Regions from separate parts of the Homo sapiens genome. Here region 2 is linked to region 1. Evidence: fine-mapped expression QTL. Tissue or cell type: whole blood. Region 1 holds a variant in brackets; the other region holds the start of a gene. All regions are shown on one strand. Distances are from middle to middle.

What was found. PIP is the estimated chance that this variant, and not a neighbour inherited with it, causes the effect.
Region 2: SPSB1 starts here. The variant in region 1 is fine-mapped to the expression of SPSB1 in whole blood (INTERVAL, PIP 0.94).

Annotation. Positions count from the first base shown.
Region 1 is chr1:9,367,842-9,373,289 of GRCh38, forward strand. SPSB1 (splA/ryanodine receptor domain and SOCS box containing 1) reads left to right here. Exons shown (of 3, transcript NM_025106.4): 3 at 1-1,691. Among named protein-coding and RNA genes, the nearest start is that of LINC02606, 58 kb to the right of the region's middle. RefSeq lists an enhancer at 3,227-4,934. The variant T/C (reference allele first, on the strand shown) is at 3,100.
Region 2 is chr1:9,289,603-9,295,154 of GRCh38, forward strand. SPSB1 (splA/ryanodine receptor domain and SOCS box containing 1) reads left to right here and starts at 3,292. Exons shown (of 3, transcript NM_025106.4): 1 at 3,292-3,469. RefSeq lists silencers at 2,957-3,126, 3,177-3,256, 3,327-3,396, 3,937-4,226.

The DNA.
Region 1 (5,448 bases):
GAATAAACTCCTACGAAAGCCCTACATTGAGCTCCAATCTGCTCGGGGTGGGACGGGTGCTTCCCACACCTCTGGGAGAAGGCTGCAGCCACCTGGGGGTCCCAGGGTGGTGGGGGTGGCAGGTGGTACCACAGCTCTGAGAGCAGATACCAGGGGTACTAAGAGGTGCTTAGACAAGGGCTGGTGCCCGGCCCAGGGTGCCCAGCGGGGCCATGCCATGGCAGATAAAGCTCAGGACGTCAAAAACTCACCATGGACCCCAAGGCAGAAACCAAGAACTGTCTGCAGGCAAATAAGCACCCAGCACCCATCCTGGCTGCCGGTGCCCCGTACCCTGTATTTATTCTTTTAACAATAACAAAAGCCATTTATTTATTCCATCTAGAAAGGAAACCCTGTTTCAGTCCCCTCTCTCTGGCTGTTCTGTTACTTTCCTTCCACCTGTGCCCTCCCTGGGATATGTATGCCTCGCCCGCCCTCCCTGGGCACATGTGCACACGTGCCCAGGCACAAGTATGTCTCTGGGTCCCTTGCCCTGCAGTTTCCAGGGGGCTCTGCTCCAAGTTCCCTAGCGGGCCCCTCAGGGAGAAATAGCCTCACGTGCAATCTGGGTGTCTTCGGGGGCCCGTCTGGAAGGGCTGCAGCAATTCCCCTGTGTCTCCAGGTAACCAGCTAACTCTTGGGCTCAGGCACCCTTGCACAGGGTTGCATTTCTTTAGTCTTCTGTGGGTCTTTTGATGTGGGTTTGATTTTGCTTTTGCTTTTCTAGCTGAGATTTCCCAAGTGCATCCTCAGAAGCTCTGGGTGTGCCAGAGGACCCCCAGAACTAAGAAGGGAGGGCGAGTGGGTCTCCATTCCCCGAGAAGCCGGGGGCAGGGTGGGATGGGGAAGACCAGGAGCAGAGTCGAGCCTCACAGAAGCCAGCGCGGGTCTCTGCTCAGCACCCCAGCCGGGGCTCTGGACCCAGGGTAACAGCCCCAGTTCATCCCAACCCCTCTCAGAGCCTCAAGAGGGGTAGCTCGGCTGCCGGAAGAGAGGGGTGCCCTATCCCTGGCAACCCCTCCACGTAGCGTACCCCAGCACCTGCCACCGCCTTTGCCATTTCTTTGAGCTTGAAGTTAACTCTCTTAGAGTCTAACTTTGGTTCATTTCTGCACAGGTACAATAGATGACTTTATTTGTTTAAAATGTTTAATATATATACATACATATATATATATTTGTCTGTAAGAATTATGTTTTAAACAGCTGCTGTAGAGTACCTTTTTTTAAGTAAATCTTACAGTGGAGTATATTTTTTAAAGCACAAAATTGGTGCCAAGACTGGGTGAGAAATGTACATTACCCCCTTATTATTTTGACGGTTTTTTTTTTCGGGGCAGGGGACCTTACCTGTAAGACTTTTAAAGATTTTCCTCCCTCCTGTTTCAGGTGGGTCACATTCTGATGAATGTTTCCCTTGTACAGATCCCAGCTTATGGCCTTGACCCAGCCGTCCTCACAGATGCCGGGTGACCCTCTAGCTCTCTCTGCATCTCCCACCCCCCGACACCCTGGGACCCTCGACCCCACCCTTCTTTCCTACCAGCCCAGAGCCTTGTGGCTTGTACAGTTTTGAAACTCCCGTTCTATTTTATGATGGTTGATAATAGTCAGTAACCTAATAAAGGAACGTTTGTTAAAATATCAAACCATTTTTGAATTCCTCGTTTGTGCCTCGGGGGAGGGGAAAGAGACATAGCTGACCCCTCCTGGGTCCAGCCAGCTCCACGGCCCACAGTTTTCAGCAGATGATGGGCTGACTCCCTACCACCCCTTGGCAGAGGGTGGGATGCCAGGCAAAGCCCCAGACAGAGAAGGAGAAGGAGAGTCCTGGAGGGAGGACCCCAGAACAGCCTCATCCCCATTTCAGAAGTTCCTCAGCCTGGCAGCCCAAGCTGCAGAAACTTGCCAAGTCTAACAGACAGTGATTCTGTGCCTTCGTGAGCGCATCAGGTTGGTTTGTGGGGTTGTAGAACTTGAGTTGACCGTGGGCTTTTTAGGAGCAGAGTGTGAGCCATTGTGGGCGTCCTCAGAGTCCAGGCTCTAGGGGAAGGAGCAGGTCCTTCATTCGTCTTTGTGTCCCCTGGGGCTGAGTGCACGGTGATGTTTGCTGAACTGTTGCAGAGTGAACTTGTTCTGCTAGCCATGTGGGCAGAGCCCCCGACAGAAAGGACAGGAAACTCTGGCTTATTTAGGGGATCAATGGGTGATAAAATGACAGTCAAGAAATTTACTAAGATGTGATCACGTGTCACGGCTAGTTTCCAAAGAATTAGCAAGAGCACATTAAGCTTGCGGTGGGGACGCTTCATTCTGAAGGCGTGTTGGGACCTGATAGTGCCGTGAAAAGTGCCTGGCCTGAGGGCCCAAGATCCCTGGGCCCAAAGACCCATGTTCCTTTCTCTAAGAGCCTCCTGACCAGCTATCCTCAGACCACACACATCAGCAGCATCTGGGAGGGGGGTTGTGAAAATGCAGATTCCAGGGCCCCACCTGAGATGTACCAAGTCAACACTTCTAGGGCCAGGCCCAGGAATATGCATTTCCTCAACTCCCTAGGTGACCTTGCCTAAGAGAGTTTGCACACCACTATTTGTGACAGTGTCAGCTGTTTTGCAAAGTTGCTGGGTAGAGGGAAATTATTCCATGGTGTCGGTGGGTTGGCCCAATGAGGAGCGCATGCGCTCCTGAGTCAGACCTGGATTCAAATACTGGCTTTGTGGCCTTGGACGAGCCTCCGGAAAACAGCAGTCACTGTAGTGTAGTACCTATCTCACAGGAGGATAGCAAGGGTAAGATGAGGCTTTCCGAACAGGACCTGGAGTCTTAGCGAGTGTGCAAACAAATGCTTTAAAAGCTCCTGCATTTCTGGAAAATGGCAGTTTCTGGGTTGCGACTTTGTCTCTAAGAATGGACCAGATGCTCGGGCGCGGTGGCTCACGCCTGTAATCCCAGCACTTTGGGAGGCCGAGGCGGGCGGATCACAAGGTCAAGAGATCGAGACCATCCTGGCCAACATGGTGAAACCCCATCTCTACTAAAAATACAAAAATTAGC[T/C]GGGCATGGTGGTGCGTGCCTGTAGTCCCAGCTGCTCAGGAGGCTAAGGCAGGAGAATGGCATGAACCTGAGAGGCGGAGGCTGCAGTGAGCCGAGATCGCACCACTGCACTCCAGCCTGGGCTACAGAGCGAGACTCTGTCCCCTCCAAAAAAAGAATGGACCAGACATTCCTAAACCAACTTCCTGATAATGATCTTCCTTCCCAGGTAAAGTCTCCAAAGGTCAAGGTGGGTATTGGGAAGAGGGTCCCCTAGATGCCTTTCCCAGATGCGGTTGGATGAAAGGGGTGGTGTAAAATGATTTTCAGGTTGGAGTTCATGTCTGGGTTGCAGTTGGAACTCCGCTTCCTTTGAAGGGGGCAGCAGGGGAGGAGTGGGGTTGGGGTCAGGCGCTGGGGGCGGGGGGAGGCACAGGGAAAAATCAGGGCCCTTGTGCTGCCAGGAGACTTCTCGGGGAGTAGGGTTTTGTGCCGAAGGGAGTGGGATTAATAAAACCATCTGTGCAGACTTGGCCCATGTGGTTGTAATTAATCCCCTGCCTTCAAGCAGGTAGCAGACTCTCAGGGCTTGGCCATAGATGGGAAGAGTCCTCCCGTCCCCACCCTTCAGCACGAAGCTTCCCTCCCGCCTTCTCCGCTCCTCGACGAGATGAGGAATGTGGAATTTACTGAACCATAAACTATGCCGGGGGAGCTGGGGAGGGGGCCGAAGACAGAGCAATTAGTTCATGCTCCAGTCCAGACACCCAAACATGGTTGGATTCCAGCTGCAAGGAATATTTGAAATAAATGAGCTGCCCAGGGCCAGGAGTTTGCTGTGTTTTCTGTATGGGGCCATGGCAACCAGGGAGGAAATCGTGAGCTAGGGACTGGGCTCTAGAGTCAACAAATGATGTCCTGGCCCAGCAAATGCAGAGGAAGCCGCTCATGGCTCTCCTCGGGTTTCTTGAGACTCAGCTGCTGGCAGGCAGGACTCGGGCCGACCATCTCCCTGGTGCACTCAGACCGTGGTGTTCTCTCCTGGGTTCTGATTTTTTTTTTTTTTTTTGGTAAGAAAAGAGAAAACTAACTCTTCTCTGGAACCTTTCTTCCTGGGCCAGAGAACAGCTGCTGCTGTTGCTGCCGGGCTGATAATGATTTTCCTGGGTAGAGGAATATTCTCCGTGGAAAAGCTCAGGCTGAGGGCAGCTAGCTAGACAGAGGTGGCACTGACCTTGTGCAGGGTTTGTCTTCCTGCCCCACCCCAATTGCAGCCTCTACTGGGTCTGCTTTATAGGCAGGAAAGGCAAAGGTCTCCTCCAGCTCCCTTCCCTGGTGGCGTTTGGGGGTGAACCTTACAGCTGTCCCCAAAGATGTGTCTTACAAGTGCATGTGAGTACCAGGACCGAATCGGGGATTTCACCCTGAAGTTCACAGATGCTCCCTGCATCTGAATCGCCCGGAGGAACCTAGGGGAGGAAAGCAAAATCCTGGTAAGCTTGATATGCAATAGGATGGGCCTGCGAATAGGCATCTTCGAACACCCATAGATGACGCAGATAACATTGTCCTGAAGGTTGCTGGGGTCCCAGCGTTACATGCAGAGTTGCGTCCATGCAGAGTTGCATGCAGTTACATGCAGAGCTGCACCTATGCAGACCTCTCTGCTGTATCCCCATGGTCCTTCAGAGCCCTGCCAGGGGCTGAGACCCACAGAAGCTTGGAGACCACGGGTATAGAAGATTCTGTTCGCGTGGCCCTCCCAGCTCTCTCTGCTCTGTGTCTCAGAGCACAGGCAGTCCCCGAGCTGCCGATCAAGGCATCAACGCCAGGCACAAAAACTTCTCACCCAGGCACAAAAGTGCTCATCTTAGGAATGAACAAAGTCGGTCCAAGGGAGAAATACTGGAGTCCAGGCAGGGAAACCTTGAGGGCTATCCTTCAGCCTCAGTTTCCCTAAGGAAATTAGACCCTGGAAAGCTGAACCAGGAGCTTGGAGACAACATTCGGGTCTACAAGCCACGGCCCATGCAAGACCCTTCCAGCAGGGCTATCCCCATGGGAGCTGCTCATGGGTATTTCCCACAACCTCAGCACAGCATGTAGGGACAAGGGCCTCATCAACCCAGGACTGTGCCTCTCAGAGCATGTCTTCCTCTCTCTTTACAGCCTAAGAAGCAAACATTTTAATCCCTCTCCCACCTACATCCCTGGGCCCTACCTTTCGAAAGATGTTCAGCTTTGCCAGTGATTTCTGTTCAGCAAAGTGGGGCCGCCAGGGTTTCTGATGTCCACAGGTGGAATCAACTCCAGTGGAAAAGGAACCTCACCTTCCAGGCTGGCCATGTGTGGAGGCTGAGTGACTGGGGA
Region 2 (5,552 bases), 78 kb before region 1:
TTAAAAAAAAAACCTATTATCTTGAAAATTCTCAAAATCCTTGATTTCATTCTAGCACAATTAATTGTGTTCAGTTAATGTTGGTTGAATGATTGCACCACCTCCCCAGTTTCTGGGGAAATGTGTAGAGCAGTTCTACAGATGAGAACAGGAAATCTCAGAAAGGTTAAGTAACTTGCTCAAGGTCACACAGCTGATGAATAGCAGAGCTGGGGGTTGCATTGGGTTTGTCTATTACCAAATCCTTTGCACATTTGCTCCAATCAGCAAAAGGGATTCAGAGAAGATGGCAGCCTTTAACACTTGTGAGGGCAGCAGGATTCTGTGCTAAGAGCTCAAGGCTCAGAACCATCATCAGAAAAAGCAGCTGATGCTAATTCACCATCTATCAAGTTTCTCTTCACCATTTCCCGGAGACAGATTAAAGACATGAGCAAATTGTGCTGATGCAAGTGATAAAATGTGTGTGGGGGTGGGGTGGAGTTGGGGAGGGGGTTGGGGATGACACCACTGGGAGCCCAGAGCCACCTCCCTCCCGACTCACCCCTGCAGTACACAGATCTTTGTATAAGTCCTGAGTCACCCTTCAAATTTTTGGATAGTATCTATCAGCTTATGTCACAATGTTGCAAGATTATGTATCTTTTTTTAACAAACAATAGTATCAGCATGCTAGGGTGATTCTGAGCCCTTCTGACACATAAACTGGCTTCCAGGATTGCTCAACATTGCCCCATGCTGCAGCAGTCACTGCCGGCTGACCAGCCTTCCATCATCCGGCCAACCTGCCCAGCGTCCTGGAGGAGAGAAGGCCCACTCCCCAGGGGTTCTTCTGGGAAATTTAGGTCAGCAGGGTCTAATTATTCAACTGGATCAAGAGCTGAGATTTCCAGATTAACGCCGAAGGGGGGTGGGGTGGGGGTGCTGAAGACTTTTCATCAGGAACTGTCTTTCAGGGCCTTAAACATCAAAGCTGGGTCTCTAGCTCCAAAGTGCCCCAGTCTGCCCTGGAAGCTTCCCAGATGTTAAGAGGTGAGGCTTGGTGGAGTTCCTCTTAGCAAAGCTGACAACACCATGGCCCCAGGCCACGTGGCCGTAGCACCAGCCCCATGAGATGCCAGTGTCTGGTAGATGCCACACACACAGTGAATAATCCACCAAACAGGGCTACTCTCCCAAGGAGAAATGAACCCATCAGAGGCAGCTGTGATTTTCAGCAATGACTGACGTGGGCTGCACCCCATGGGCCTGTCCCAGAGGCTCTCACCAGTCTCCCAAGTAAACAACAGTTCTCAAACTGCAGAGTGGCTGGAGGGGGTCATATGCTCTTTTAAAATTATTATTACCTTTTTTTTCTTTTTTTTTGAGATGGAGTCTCGCTCTGTTGCCCAGGCTGGAGTGCAGTGGTGCGATGTCGGCTCACTGCAACCTCTGCCTCCTGGGTTCAAGAGATTCTCCTGCCTCAGCCTCCCGAGTAGCTGGGATCGCAGGCACGTACCACCACACCCAGCTAATTTTTGCATTTTCAGTAGAGATGGAGTGTTGCCATGTTGGCCAGGCTGGTCCTGAACTTCTTTTTTTTTTTTTTTTTTTTTTTTTGTGAGACGGAGTCTCGCTCTGTCACCTGGGCTGGAGTGCAGTGGCGCAATCTCGGCTCACTGCAATCTCTGCCTCCCGGGTTCACACCATTCTCCTGCCTCAGCCTCCCAAGTAGCTGGGACTTACAGATGCCCGCCACCACGCCTGGCTAATTTTTTATATTTGTAGTAGTGACGGGTTTCATCGTGTTAGCCAGGATGGTCTCCATCTCCTGACCTCGTGATCCGCCCGCCTCGACCTCCCAAAGTGCTGGGATTACAGGTGTGAGCCACCAAGCCCAGCCTGGTCCTGAACTTCTGACCTCAGGTGATCCACCTGCCTCAGCCTCCCAAAGCGCTGGGATTACAGGTGTGAGCCATCATGCCCGGCCAATTATTATTATTATTATTTAATTTTTGTGCAGAGTCTGTGTCTTGCTCTGTTGCCCGGGCTGCTCTTGAACTCCTGGGCTTAAGTGATCTGCCTGCCTCAGCCACCCAAAGTGTGGGGATTAAGGGCGTGAGAGCCACCACCTCCAGCCTCAAGTGATCTTTTAAATGGGAAGCACCCCTAAGCTGCTGGCCATGGCTGCCCACCTGACTAGTCTGGGTTCAACATTCCTAAACCGCTGGCACCTGGAAAGTCAGAATGCCCACTCAGGCCCGCCCAGCCCAGGGCAGTTGGTTGAGTCTCCGTAATCCTATTCTGAGTTCAAACAAAGCTAAACCAAACTGATTTTCAGCACCGTAAAATGAGAGACATCAAACTTTGTAATCTCACAGTTCAATTGGGTTCCAAGCTCTGGACAGCTGGCCTCGGGCCAGGCACTGTTTCCTCGCCTTTACAGTGAGTGTGTCATTAGTCCCACCCTCACTGTACTGGGTTATGGTAAAGACACAGTAACTACGGAAGCCCCGCTATTTGTTTCGGCTCCCCCAGAAAGGCTAACTCCTCACCGTTTTCAATGGACACTACACAGCGAGGGGTGGGGAATGCCAGGAGATTTTGCTCTCAAAACAGCAAAGTCTTTAAAATCTTCCCAGTCCCAAGTGACTGCTCTGTTCGGGGAAGGGGGAGGAAAATTCCTTGAACGAGCTAGAGCCACAGGACAAGTCCCCAGAGGCTGGGACCTGTTCAGGGAGCAGCCCTGCGGATGCCAGGTGCCCGCGCCCTCAGGGTCTCGAGGTCCGAGGCCCCCGTCCCCGTGGGCACCGAAACGCGAGCGGCCGAAACAGCGCTGCAGGAGGCTCCCTGGACCCCCGGCGGCTGCCCACTCGTCCCCGCTGGGCACTTCAGAGGAGGCCGGCGAGGCCTTGCTCGGGGTTCCTGGGACAACCCCACTCTCCGCGAAGATTTCTCCTTCTCGTAAGACCCCCGCCCCCACTCCAGCCTCCCACGGCTGCAACCCAGGCCCTGCGCCACGCGTTTCCCAAAGACGCCTCCGGAGGGACCCGAGCTTCGGGCCGGCAACACCAGGGCGGCGGCTCGGGAGAGGGCTGCGGACTAAGGGGGCGGAGGGGGCGGCCGAACCAGCGCCGGGCTGACGCGCCCCGCGCCCCGCGCCCCGCGCCCCCGGCCTTCCCTGCAGTGCTGAGTGGTCCGTGCGCCCGAGGTCGGGGGCGGGGCGGGGCGGGGCGGGGCAGGGACGGCCCCGCCCACCGGCGCTTTTCTCTTTTTTTTCACTTTAAAGCCGTCGGTTGCTTTTTCTCCTCCGCACAGAAGTCGCGCTCGGGCAGCCTGCGCGCTCGCAGCAGGAACCAGGCTCCAGGCGCCGGCGCCGGGGCCGGGGCCGCGGGGAGGAGGCGACTTCGCTCCCTGCGGCGGGCGCGGCCCGGGCGCCCGAGCCTCCTCGGCCTTGGAGAGCAGCGGCGGCGGCGGCACCCCGGGCGCGGTAGGCGGCGCGGGGCACCTGGGACCCCGATGGGTGGGCGACCGGCCCGGGAGGGGGAGGCGCGGGGGGCCGGGCGAGGGCGGACGCGGGGATCGCGCCGCTGGGGGACCGAGTGGGTGGCGCGGGGCCGGGCGCGGGGGAGCGGGTGGAGTACGGGATGGGGACTCGGGGCGCGGCCCCTCCCGCGGTGGCTCCGGGGGCGCCTCCCTCGCCGCGGCTCCTGGGAGAGGGGCCCAGGCCCGCCCCGCGCTGCCGCCGCTGCAGGGCAGGGGGTCCCGGGGCGAGGCGCGGCGGGGGTCTCGGGGCGCGGGGACCGTCGCAACGAGTTGCGGTCCCGAGGAGGGGCTGGGGCGCTCCGGGGCCGCCGACCCGTCCCCCCTTTAGCCCGGGGAAAGCGGGACCCCGCTCGGCTGAGTTAGTTTCGCTTTTCCCGCCAGTCCGAGTCGGGATTGGCGGCGCGGCCCGGTCCCCCGTCGGGGCGCCCCCACCCTCCCGCAGCGCCTCCCCCAGGGAGCCTGCCGGGGACACCCGAGCGCCGCCCTCCCCGCCGCCCCGGAGCCGCCGCGGCTTCTCCCAGCAGCGGAGGGAGAGCCGGAGGGTTGTCAGGAAATCGATTAAATCAGAAAAACAAGGGCGGCCTGGGCCCGCGGGAGGAACCGCGGATGGGTCACCGTCCCCGGGCGTGTACTGGGCTCGGTGGCGTCCAGGTTCCGGTGAGGACGGGACGGCCCCGAGAGGAGGGTGCGGGTCTGCAGGAAGAGCGGGTGTCTCTGAGAGTGCATCTGCGTGTGTGTTTGTGCATGTCCTTGTGAATATGTGCCTGCGTATGAGTGTGTCTGTGTGTTCATGTGGGTGTGTGTGTGAGTGTGTCTCTAAGTGCATCTGTGTATTTATGTGCCTCTGAGTGTGTGTGTGAGTCTGTGTGTCTGTCAATGTGTGCCTGAGACTCTAAGTGACTGTGTGTGTGTGTGTGTGTCTGAGTGCGTCTTTGTGTATTTGTGTGTGCCTCTCTGTGTATGTCTGTGTGTCTTTGTGTGTGTCTGTGTGTGAGTGTGTATGTGTCTTTGGGTGTGTGTCTCTGCAAGTTTGTGTCTCTGAGTGTCTGTCTCTGCAAATGTGTGTCTCTGTGTCTTTGTGTCTGTGTGTGTCTTTGCGTGTGTGTGTCTTTGTGTCTCTTTGTGTGTCCACACGTGTCTCTGTGTCTGTCTCTGTGTCTGTGTCTCTGAGTGCGTCTGTGTATGTGTGAGTGTCTGTGTGTCTCCAAGTGTGTGTCTGTGTGTCTTTGTGTGTGTTTCTCTGTGAGTGTGTGTGGGGACCATCCAGGGGGCCCTCTGGTTCCTAGGTACTGCTCCTCATGGTGATTTCTTTACTTGGTTCTGGATAGCCGGGCATGCTGGGCCACAGACACCCCACTAGGCAAGCCCTGCTGGTGCCCCCGAGGAGAGCGCAGGCTCTTCCTCTCTCCATTTCTCTGAAAATGAACTACACAGTTTGGGGGTGAGTTGGCAGGGGCTGCTTCCTGAGTGAGTAATATTTAATTAAACACTCCAGTCTGTAGCATCAGAAACTGGTCATGAGTTGAGTTTTAACAGGTGTTCATGGTAAAAGCGCCATCCCTGGTGACTAAGGTTTGATGTCCTTGGAAGAATTTTCTCGTTGGGGGGGCTGGGCCCACAACTTCATTTCTCATCGTGGGGTGTGAGGAGAACAGCAAGCAAGGAAGGGGATGGGGGCCTCTCCCTTCTGCCCTGTCCCCCTCCTCAGACCCCCCTCCCAGTGGTGGAAAGCCCTGGGCTAAGCATGGGCAGCACAGGTGGTCTCTCCACACTGAGGAATTTTGGAGTCAGGGAAGTCCTGTCTTACTGTCTAGGCCAGCCTGTCCTAGAGAGGCCCAGAGAGGGCGGTTCACTTACCCAGACTGCACAGCCAGGGCTGTGGACCAAGACTCCCCAGTCCTGAAACTGTTGCTCTTGGTTACTGTCCCCAGCACTGAGGTCATGGGCCAGGCACTTCGTGTCTCCCCAGCTGTGAAGTGATGGGCTGGATTAGATCATTTAAAGCACTCCTGCTCTCTTACAGCTGC